Homo sapiens: one gene and its partners. The protein of the gene in region 3 purifies or fractionates together with the protein of the main gene of each other region. This does not show direct contact. Each region holds a gene or a part of one and is shown on either strand. Other genes may lie near its edges.

What was found.
Region 1: the proteins of CSTL1 (region 3) and NRP2 purify together in Homo sapiens (affinity purification with mass spectrometry; one large-scale study listed by BioGRID and IntAct). This does not show direct contact.
Region 2: the proteins of CSTL1 (region 3) and SPARC purify together in Homo sapiens (affinity purification with mass spectrometry; one large-scale study listed by BioGRID and IntAct). This does not show direct contact.

Annotation. Positions count from the first base shown.
Region 1 is NC_000002.12:205,685,464-205,689,113, reverse strand, and holds part of NRP2 (neuropilin-2 isoform 2 precursor), read right to left. Parts: intron 1-3,650.
Region 2 is NC_000005.10:151,662,837-151,666,486, forward strand, and holds part of SPARC (SPARC isoform 1 precursor), read right to left. Parts: coding exon 3,525-3,650; intron 1,400-3,524; coding exon 1,251-1,399; intron 764-1,250; coding exon 735-763; coding exon of another isoform or gene 619-734; 3' UTR 1-618.
Region 3 is NC_000020.11:23,438,164-23,441,913, forward strand, and holds the start of CSTL1 (cystatin-like 1 precursor), read left to right. Parts: upstream 1-1,521; 5' UTR 1,522-1,643; intron 1,644-1,980; 5' UTR 1,981-2,104; coding exon 2,105-2,323; intron 2,324-2,613; exon of another isoform or gene 2,614-2,736; intron 2,737-3,750.

The DNA of each region.
Region 1 (3,650 bases), on a different chromosome or scaffold from region 3:
TCTCTGCCTGTGCCAGTACTCTGTCTGTGTGAACAATGAGAGATGTGTTTGAGGCTGGGGTGTGAGTGGGCTGGAAGCACTTAACACCTTCTCCACTCCCTGTACACACAGGCACTCAGCTCCTTGTCATCCTGGCCCTCTTTCCTGTGTTCTGGAAACCCTAGGCATGGGGCCGGGGAGGGCGGGTGATGGATAGGAAGTTCAGGTCTGAAACCATGTATCACAACATCGAAGGGTTTTTTTGTTTTTTTTGTTTTGTTTTGTTTTTTTGTTTTTTGCCAACTCCTATTTCTCTCCTTTCTTCTCAATCCTACTCTTCTCTATCCTAAATGCCACATTGTTATTGTTCTACTGGATAGGAGTAGCATTTTCAGAAATGGGGGATTTATTTTTATAGCACAGCTGGTCTGCCAAAGGTCACATAATTTGGCAATGTTCCCAGTGGTTAAAAATTAATTTCTCCTTATTAATACAACCAAGGTCCCAGAGGATCGGAGCTCAGCCTTATCTAAACTTGACAGCTTCCTAAACCTTTAGAAGATGCTTTCTCCTGGAGGGCCAGCCATGATACAAGGCCACTGTGTCCTGGAATCCTACTCCACTGAATCCTGTTAGGCAATGAAACCATTAAGCCTCTGACCATTTCTCATCAAGGCAGATAAAGCTTTGAAAAATACTGTAGCTCTCCAGGACAAACTTCTGCAGCATCTTCCAGAAATGGGTTAATTAAAAAACAAAAATCAGCAAACAGCCAAGTCCTTACCTGGAAGGAACAGTACAAAGACTAACTTCTGGTGATCAATATACTTATCTGCCACTCAAGGAAGGTATCTCAAAGATTATCCAGTTGCAAGTGATGGTCAGATAATAAAATACCTCAAATATGTTAATAACACTACAAGCCATTGCCCAGATGACACTTTTCAAGTCCTTTCTTGTCAGTTCAAGAAATTAAAAAGATATTCTTCTTTTGCTCTATCTTTTAAGAAAGGAAGATCTCAGCTCAAGTTCCTAAAGTCTTTCCAAACTGGACCTTTGGAGAATATATTTGGAAACCTCTTTACCTGGCTCTTGAATTCTGTCAACTCAGAATTGTCTTACACTCAGGTCATCCTGAGTCAGTTCATTTTCCTGATTGCTTTAGGGAAGACTTGAGTGAAATGAAAAACACCAGGGTCCCCAGAATCATCTGGTCCCTGGTGTCTCTCCTCACTGACCCCAGACCCCTCCCTCACTGTCATTTGTATTCGTGCCTCACTGCATATGAATTGGCATTTGGATTCCTAGCTTTTTCTATGCCTGGAAGATAGGAACTGGCCTTTCTGCTGCAGAACGTGGACTTGATACATTCAACAGCAGGGGATCAGAGCCATTTGGTAGACAGCAGGAGTCCTGTCTGGGTAGCCTGGGTTCCAGTCACTGCAGCCTTCCAATCTTTCATTTTGCCAGTTGAGTGCTCCGTAGCTTAATGTCTGAGGGCTCTATGGGATGACATAAAACTCCAAACCTGATGTGCACTGGCGCATTCACAATTCCACCAGGCACCGCTTGGACGAGTAGGGGCCTGCCCGGGGCCCTTTGGGGAGTGCTCCTCTTGCCACTGTCTTGCACTGTGTGCTCTGCTGGCAACTGGCCACAGCTTCCCTACCTCCAGGAGCTGATCACGGGGGAAAAATGTTTACTGGGTACCCATTTAATGTGGGCATGAGACCAATCCCTAGAGCCCAGAGCAGGCCGTCTGCGTAAAATCTAGGAGTTTACAGTTTACTTGCAAATTATTATGCTCGCCAATGGCCATCTCACATTTTGGGGAGACAGGCTAAAAGAAACACTTCAAACCCTTATCCGGCGCCTAGACCGTCATTGCTTCTCTTTCAGGATTTGTCTGAACCCAGACCTGTCTCCCACAGCCAATTTACACCTCTTATCTGATCATCCAGTCCAGACGGAAGGGTGAATTGACCGAGAATCTGCGCGTGTCCATGGCAATGGCGTTAAAACCCAAGCATAGATCAAAGCTCTCCAGACGAGGAGGGGAGGGGTAGATGGTTATGGGGTCTGGGTTCTTTTGGCCCCAAGCGATGTGTCCCGGAGGTGGGGACATTAGGCCTGGGAGTTGCCACCATTTGAAGAAACCCATTGTCAGGACTTGAATGATTTTCTGAGCAAAACCCAGTCCCCCCGCAGATCATGATTAACTCTAGCAAAGGGGACGTTCGTAGTGGGCGCTGATCGGGAATGGCTAGCGCCAGGGGGCTCTCCTCTCTGTCTGAAACCGAAAGAACAGGAAGTGGAGGGAGGGGAGCCGAGCAGGGAGCACACGCCAATAAACCTGAGCGTGGATCTCCTATCTTTTAGAAGAAATTCAGCCGGAGCCGCAGAAGCCGCAACGCATATGGGCAAGATCCCCTAAAACTTGGTCTGGAAAGCTGATTCCCGAAGGTTCCCCAACCCAGATGATTCCCAGAGGGGCGACAAGTCTATTCCAAATCCCTCCCCCACCTCCAAACACTAGGGCTACCGGCGCCCGCCACCCAGCCGCTGGACGCCTGCGACCCGGTGGGAAAGACCCCCGGCACAGCCAGCCCGAGTCGAAGGGCGGGGGCAGCCCTTCAATCAGAGCGCGCCTTGCCTCCATTAACTTGTGTTGATATTAAAAAGAAATCAATCAGTGAAAATGAAGCATCGGCCGTGAACATTTCTTTTTCTCACGTGGAAAAGCAAAGAGCGAGGCGGCTGGGGAGGGGAGGCGGGAACTCGCCGGCGGCTGCAGGCAGAGGCTTCTCCAGAGACCAGCGCTGCAGCCGAGACCTAACTTTCCGGCATAGGGCAGCGTTGAAGAAATGCCGCAGGCTTTTCCCTGGGGGTGTCCTTAGGAGGAGGAGGAGGAGGAGGGCACAAGCATGGAGTAGTTGGAGGCGGCCAACTTCGCGGAGGCTTCAGCCTCGGTTTTGCTTTCGCTGGGAATATTTTTGCTTAATAGAATGTTTATGGATCGCTGGGCTCTGTTTCTGCTGCGTAGCCCAAACAAATCGATGCGGCGTTAGAGAAGGCGCTGGGGGGCGGGGAAGGGGAGGGAGGGCTAGGAGGAGAGCTGAGGGGCTATCACGTCCCCACCACGTGGATGGCCGCACGCCGCGTGCTCTTCACCTGTTCCTGCGCACCGGCGGGCGCTGGGCGCGCGGCGCTTCTAGAGGCTGTGCAAGTTGCGCGCATTCCTGGGGCTCAAGCTGGTTCCTTCCCGCCTCTCTCCGCCCTCCTCTCCGAAATCCCACCCCAGTTTCCTCTCACCTAGTTGGGCCAGCGCTTGGATTCCCAAGCCAGCCGGCCTCGGCCTCCCGCCACTCAAAGCCGTCTCTCTAGGGGTCGCGGCGAGCCTGCCGCGCAGAGCGGAGCGCAGGGGACTGGCGGGGGCGCCCGGGGCAGGGAGGGAGGCAGGCTAGCGGCTGCACTGCGGTCTGGCGAGGCGGCGCAGTGAGGAGAGGGGCAGCCTGGTGCGCGTCGCCCATGCGGCCTCCCAGCCACGCGCCAGCCCAAGGTGCCGCGCGCCGCGACCGCCGTGTTATTTGCTCAGTTGCTCCCCCGCGCGCACCTTCTGCCCCATCTTGCTCCTTCCCAGAATTGGTTCTCGTCGCCGGCGGCGGCGGCTG
Region 2 (3,650 bases), on a different chromosome or scaffold from region 3:
TGCAGGATGCGCTGACCACTTCCCAGAGAACTGACAGTCCGTGCTCCCAAAAGTTTGAACCAACAGCCTAATGTGAAAAGAAACTGCACTGAAAGGTAAAGGAGGAAATGGTGATGAACTGGGCTTATGTGAGAATGTCTATATTTTCATAACACAGCCCCAGAATCTTTCTCTCAGTTACAGCCTCAGGCAAACCACGTTCTGGTTGGTGGGTTCTGCAGGGATCTCTCCCACCACTGAGCCTCTAGTCCCAAAACCATCCTTGACAACATCGTGTGTCTGTTACTTCCCTTTGCCCACCTCCAGGCCACCTGGGGAAGCCCACAGGCAGCCAAGACCCTGAAATGAAATGAACACAAAGTCTGACTCGGTAAGTATTAGTTTCAAACAGAACACTAAAGAGAAAAGTTGAAGCTGCAATGTGTGTTTAAGGCAGAGCCCAGCAGATCCGTGTCCACCCATGTGCCAATAAGACAATGGGCAAAGCTACAAATGGCAAGAGAAAAATGGGACTATTAATGCGTGTGGAAAAGGCCTTAATAGTTAAGTTACAGCTAAGAATGTCATGTCTTGGGTTAGAATTTTCATTTTTAGCACCGTTAATGTATTCACTTAAATCTATGTTAGCACCTTGTCTCCAGGCAGAACAACAAACCATCCAAACATTTTAAACATTGGGGGAAACACGAAGGGGAGGGTTAAAGAGAGAATCCGGTACTGTGGAAGGAGTGGATTTAGATCACAAGATCCTTGTCGATATCCTCTGCAAAGCAAGAAAAGAGCACGGTTAAAAATAAGGCTGTGTCGATGATAACGCACTTCCCAAGGAGTCAGTGGACTCCCACCCATCCCCAGGGGCAGGGGTCTAGGTGGCCATGCAAGGTCACCCAGGAAGTCAGTGACGGAGGAATCTCGCTCTCTCTGTCTCTGGCCTGTCCCTGTCTCTTACACACGCTGCCAAGTTACACTTCCTGTTTCCTCTCTGTGTGCCTGCCAGTTCCCAAAATAGTGTTTAGCACGGGTGAGTGCTAACGCTTGAGGAAGGGAAAGAGAGAGGGACAGTTGGATGGACAGAGAAGGATCAGGAAGACGCCCAAGAGACAGGAGTCAAATAGGCAGAGAGAGCAGAGACAGGCAGAGAGGACAGACAACAGACAGACCAAGAGAGCGGAGAGTGGGGGGATGACAACCCAGCACCCTGGGAGCAGTGTTTCTGCCCATGCCCCTTGCTTCTTTGTTCAGACACTCACTCTGCTTGATGCCGAAGCAGCCGGCCCACTCATCCAGGGCGATGTACTTGTCATTGTCCAGGTCACAGGTCTCGAAAAAGCGGGTGGTGCAATGCTCCATGGGGATGAGGGGAGCACGCAGTGGAGCCAGCTCGGTGTGGGAGAGGTACCTGCAGGGAAGGAGGCAGGGGAGGGCCTGAGGCATGGAAAAGCTCCACACCCAGCCTTGGGAGGCAACCGGGGAGTTAGCCTGCCCCAGAGCATGGAGGAAAGGATATTTAAAGCAGGACAAAAAGCCAGAATCCCAGGTCTACCCCTAGCTCTGCCACTGACTGCTCTGAGACTCAGAGAACAGCAGTGCACCATTCGGAACCTCAGTTTCTCCTTCCAGCAAAGAGGAGGAGATGGCCATAATTACTAACGGCCCTTCCAGCTCTAAGGTTTCAGGGTCTCAAAAACAAAGGTCTGTTTGGTGTATTTGATTGTTTCCTAATTGGCTGAGAACTGGGGACACAGAAACTTAAAATCAAAATTCAGCACTTCTGCTATGGGTAGATCAAAATCTAGCATGACACAGCACTGTATATTGTCTATGGACACACATTTATACATCTATAAATGCCTAGTAAAGGGTCTAAAAATGACACACCAATCTGGTGACAGTGCTGCCTTCTGGGGAGGAATGTGGAAAGGGACTGGGATTGGCAGTGAGGGTCAACGGGAGCTCTAACCATCTTCATAGAGCTTTGCTTGTGTATCCTGTAATGTCTGAGAGGGAGGCCCTTTGGATGTCTCTCCCACTGTCCTCCCTCCCTATTCTCCCTGCTGGCCTTAGACTCCAGAGCATGTGTATAATTTTTTTCTTTGTTTCCCAGAGCCCCCAACTACTTGTCCCTAAAGATCCACAAAGGATCTCCAGGGAACAATGTGACTCCAGTTGTCTTCTTAACCTCTAGACCTCGCAGCCCCACCCAGCTCACCAAAGAAATCACACAATGTTTGAACTGATAGGAACATTCTCCTCCCCTTCATTGTACTGGTGGAAAACTGAGGCCCAGGGAGGGGCAGGGATGCAGGCAAGGTCACCTACAGCCCTGGGATGGGAGGAGGAGGAAGCGGGTCCCCTTGCCCAAGCTGGACCCCTTTCCCAGATGTGCTGTTCTTGCACCCCATCTGAAAGCCTCCCTCCAGGCCCTCTGTTGCAGTGGGATCAAATTGCTTTGCCTGAGCTCCAGATGTTCCCCTTTGACTTTTCCCCTCCCTGCCATAATGAGTGACTCAGTTGGATCCCAGCCATGGCAAAAGCCTGGGAGAGAAGTGGCCGGGAGATTCCCAGAGCCCAGGAGACCCCAGCCCTCAGGATCACTGGCAGGGTTGGCAGACTCCAGGCACACAGGCTGGACAAAGAGCGAGGGGTGAACATCCTAGAGAGGAAGTTCCCTGAGTATGTGAGTAGGGCAGCCCTTCCTTTCCCCTCTGTGTGATGCTCTGCTTCCACAACCCAAGGACGAAGAAAAAACCACTCTGGGAAGGTGCAGGTGTAGCTTGCTCCATCTGAGGCTGAGCAGGGGCTCTCACTTCATCACCACAAGAGAAGTTCAGAAGGTAGTGACAGGTTATGAACAGAGTATAAGTCCATGAGGGCAAGGACCATGCCAGCTCTGACTGCTGTTCAATCCCCTGCCTAGAATAGTGCAGGGCACAAAATGCACACTCCATAAGCATTTGCTAACTGGCCAGCTGCCTGCCTGTTCGGCAGTGCAGTTGCACAGGGCCTCATAACTCGTTTGGACAAGGGACAAGAGCCCTCAAACTGGGGGCTTGCAAAATAGACAGGCTTTTTTGGATAACTTCCAGGGTCAGTTGGGCCCTATTGGGGCTGAGCCTTAGGAGGGGGCTTAGACAGTGCCAGGTGGCTGCTCTGCCCCTGGATGTTCTGCTGAAGGACAGGGGGCGTGTGGCTGACCCAACCTTGTCCCCTGCCACCCCTTGGAGCCTGGTACTCCTTCTTAATTCACACTCCTTCATTATCCAGATATCCACGCCTAGTACTTGCAGGATTATGGAGCTATTTTGAGCTCCTACTGACTTTCACCTCAGCATGAGAGTGTCTTATCGGTTTCTTTGTCCCAGGTCCACATCTTTTCTCCAGATGCCTCATCCTTCTGCTCCAATCCCCAGGCAAACTGTGGATGCCAGGGCTTGGAGCAGTATAGGCTGCTGAGAGGCTTTCTGGCCATAGCTAGTGCACCTGCCAGCCTTGAGCTCTGTTCACTCTAGGGTCTGGGGTCTTACCCGTCAATGGGGTGCTGGTCCAGCTGGCCGAACTGCCAGTGTACAGGGAAGATGTACATGTTATAGTTCTTCTCGAAGTCCCGGGCCAGCAGCTCCACGGGGTGGTCTCCTGCCTCCAGGCGCTTC
Region 3 (3,750 bases):
TAGGCGCCTCACATCTCTTTCTGTGGCATAGTCAGGGTCTATGTTTTCCTTTTCTTCAATTAAAATTGCCAGTGACTCATTTTCCTCTTTATGGACACAACCAACTCCCATATTTCTTAAGCAGATTTATTGTTTATGCTTTGAGCCCCACATCCATGGGGTTTCTAATATGGCCCACCCAATGTTATTTTTCCTCTCTATGGGCCTCAGCCTGATGGGGGTATCCCAGGTGTCTGGGGCATGCTGAGACGGCACAGGTCTGTGTGGCTTCCCGGATTACTCGGAATCCTTCATTATCTATTCTACAGCAAGTGGCCCTCGGCAGCTCAGGCTCAGGGAATTTCAAATGTATCACCTCCACCGGCTGGACAAGTCCTCTCAAGACAGGCTCTGGGGCCAAGGGAGGATGTTGTGACTGGTGCTAGCAACATTGTCATGATGGAAGGTGGCCTGGCTTCCGGGACATGACAGGCCATGGGTGAAGTGTGGGTTCAGAGTCACAGAAGAATCACGAAGAAGACATTCTTATGCACCTGACACCTGACTTGGGAGCAGGTTCTTTGCCTACATCCAGTTAGTCTCTACCACAATTCAAGTGGAGTCTTTCTCCCCATTCTCATATTACAGGTGAAGAAACCCAGCTTAGGGAGATGAGGTAACTCTCCCAGAGTCCCCAGCGAAGGACTTGAGCCAGGACAGTTGGATCCTAAGTCTCCTGCTTCCCCTCCCTCAGCACGCTACTCCTCACAGAACAACGCTTTATTTAGTTTTGGACATTTTAACCTTTATTTTGGAATAATTTCAGACTTACACAAAGGCTGCAAAAATAGCATAAAGCATTCTCGTATACCCTTCATTCCACTTCCCCAAATGTTAACATATTATACAATCACAGTACAACGGTGAAAACTAGAATATCAACATTCACACAATACTATTAACTAATCTGCAGATTTTATTCACATTTCATCAACTATTCCACTAATGTTTTTTTCTGGTAGGATTCCATTTAAGGTGTTTTTTTTTGTTTGTTTTTTGTTTTTTTTCTGAGACACAGTCTCGCTCTGTCACCTAGGCTGGAGTGCAGCGGCACCCTCCCGGCTCACTTCAGCCTCCACCTCCTGGGTTCAAGTGATTCTCCTGCCTCAGCCTCCCAAGTAACTGGGACTACAGGTACACACCACCACACCCAGCTAATTTTGTATTTTTAGTAGAGATGGGGTTTCACCATGTTGGCCAGGCTGGTCTCGAACTCCTGATCTCTGGTGATTCACCCACCTCAGCCTCCCAAAGTGCTGGGATTACAGGCGTGAGCCACCGCGCCCAGCCAGCAAATGTTTTTAAAATAGGGCATTCATGGGCTTTTGGGGGTAAGTGACACCTAATCTTCAGGGGTCTGCGGATAATTTCTAAATGGGGCTCACAGTTTATTCCTCCCTCATAGGGAGGCTGCAATTACCTCACAAAGCTCCACTAGGGTCACAACAAGATAGCAAAAGCCAGTGCAGGGCCTGCAGGTATAGGGGGATCCTGCAAGCAGAAATCTGTGGTGGGCGGGCGGCAGGTGAGCAAGGAGAACGTGTCTGTAAAGGAAGCACAGGGAACAGGTGGTGGCTTTGTAAGACAGTTGGAACCCAAGGAAGGTAAGAATAATGTACCACTCCTTGCTCCATATGACTGCTTCCTTATATCTCAGTTCAGATATTACCTTCTCCGTAAGGCCGCCTCCCTTCCTGTAAGTGATGCTTCTCTATCTACAACCCCAGCTCTTATTGCAGAGCACTGTAGGGGCTGTTCTGGGGCTTTTCTTCCCTGAGACATGTGAAGGCAGGGAGAGGGGCTTGCACGCCTTAGCAGGTGTTTAAAAATTTTGCTTGCCTGGATCACCAAAGAACTGAATGGGTGGTGTAAATGGGTAGAAAATGAACTGGCTGGAAACTGAGTGACAAGGTTCAGGTCTGAATCTCTGTTTAAATGCAGGCAGGCCATCCCCCAGGAAAGCCTATGTTGGTGAGGGTTATGATGGGAGAATGAGTGAACTGCAGCCTGGCACCACCACACCCTGGAAGGTGCAGTTGGGAAGAAAGTTTCTGAGGCTGTAGACATGGGGATCGGATGCTGGAGAAACCCCCTGCTGCTGCTGATTGCCCTGGTCCTGTCAGCCAAGCTGGGTCACTTCCAAAGGTGGGAGGGCTTCCAGCAGAAGCTCATGAGCAAGAAGAACATGAATTCAACACTCAACTTCTTCATTCAATCCTACAACAATGCCAGCAACGACACCTACTTATATCGAGTCCAGAGGCTAATTCGAAGTCAGATGCAGGTTTGTACCTTGCTCTCCCAAGACATCAGCAGGCCCTGTTCTTGCCAGTTCAGACATGTGAGGATTCTGGGGTAGCTCCCAAGAGAACCAAGTGGTGGTCCTCCGTGAGGTCCCAAGGGGGAAGCATCTTCACTTGTAGCAGGTACATTGTAGAGTTGTTCAGATCCCAGAATGTCCTTAGCCATGCTTCCAAAATGCTTTCCTAAGGACTGGCATGAACTCTAACTCCAATACACTTAGAGGCAAAAGTGTTCACTGAGGATTAAACTCTTTTTTTTTTTTTTTTTGAGATGGAGTTTCGCTCTTGTTGCCCACGCTGGAGTGCAATGGCATGATCTTGGCTCACTGCAACCTCCTCCTCCCAGGTTCAAGTGATTCTCCTGCCTCAGCCTCCCAAGTAGCTGAGATTACAGGTACGTACCACCACACCTGGCTAAATTTTTTGTATTTTTAGTAGAAACCGGTTTTCACCATGTTAGCCAAGCTGGTCTCGAACTCCTGACCTCAGGTGATCTGCCCACCTCGGCCTCCCAAAGTGCCGGAGTTACAGGCGTGAGATACCACGCCCGGCCAGCTCTTTTTCCTTGGGAAGAAATGCCTTTCATTCTGATATTTGACCCTGCCGGAGTGACAGCAAGGATAATTTTGCTCCCTTTAAAGTTCTCATTTGGCAAAATACAAATATTCTCTGTAGGCCTGTAGCCCCCAATATTTTTTCAATGTGTAGGGTTGTAAAATTCAAAACTGGGTGTTCTGTGTTATACAAACTTCAAATTATACAGAGGGTTTATTCTGGAAGTGGAGAGGATGTGAGAGATAGGGTTCAGCCAGATCACCTCACCTTCTGTTTTACATATAAAATTTCTCTGAAATATATCAATTGAAGGATAATAGAAGAAAGAAAAGTTGTTAGGGAACCCCTTTTATTGGTACAACATTTCCTCAAGGTCAGATAATAAACTATACAGTCCCCTTGGTGTCCATGAGGAATTGGTTCCAGGACCCCTCAGGATGCCCACATCCATGGATTCTGAAGTCTTTTATGTAAAATGGAATAGTGTTTCCACATAACCTATGCACATCTTCCCACATATGGTAAATCATTTCTAGATTAATTATAATAAGTGGTACAGTGTAAATGCTATGTAGATAATTATTATACTGTACTGTTTAGGGAATAATTACAAGAAAAAATGTTCAGTATACAGGCAACCATACATTTTTTTTTCCTGAATATTTTGATGCACGGTTGTTTGCATCCACAGATATGGAGCTCGTAAGTACAGAGGGCTGACTGTAGAAGTTGGGGCAGCAACAATGCTACGTCCTAGTTCAATTAGCTAGATTTGGGAAAACACAACTGGCTATGGGAAAGCTCTCTCGCCAGAGAGTAAGGCAGCTGGAACAGAGAGAACCGGCAAGGCGGG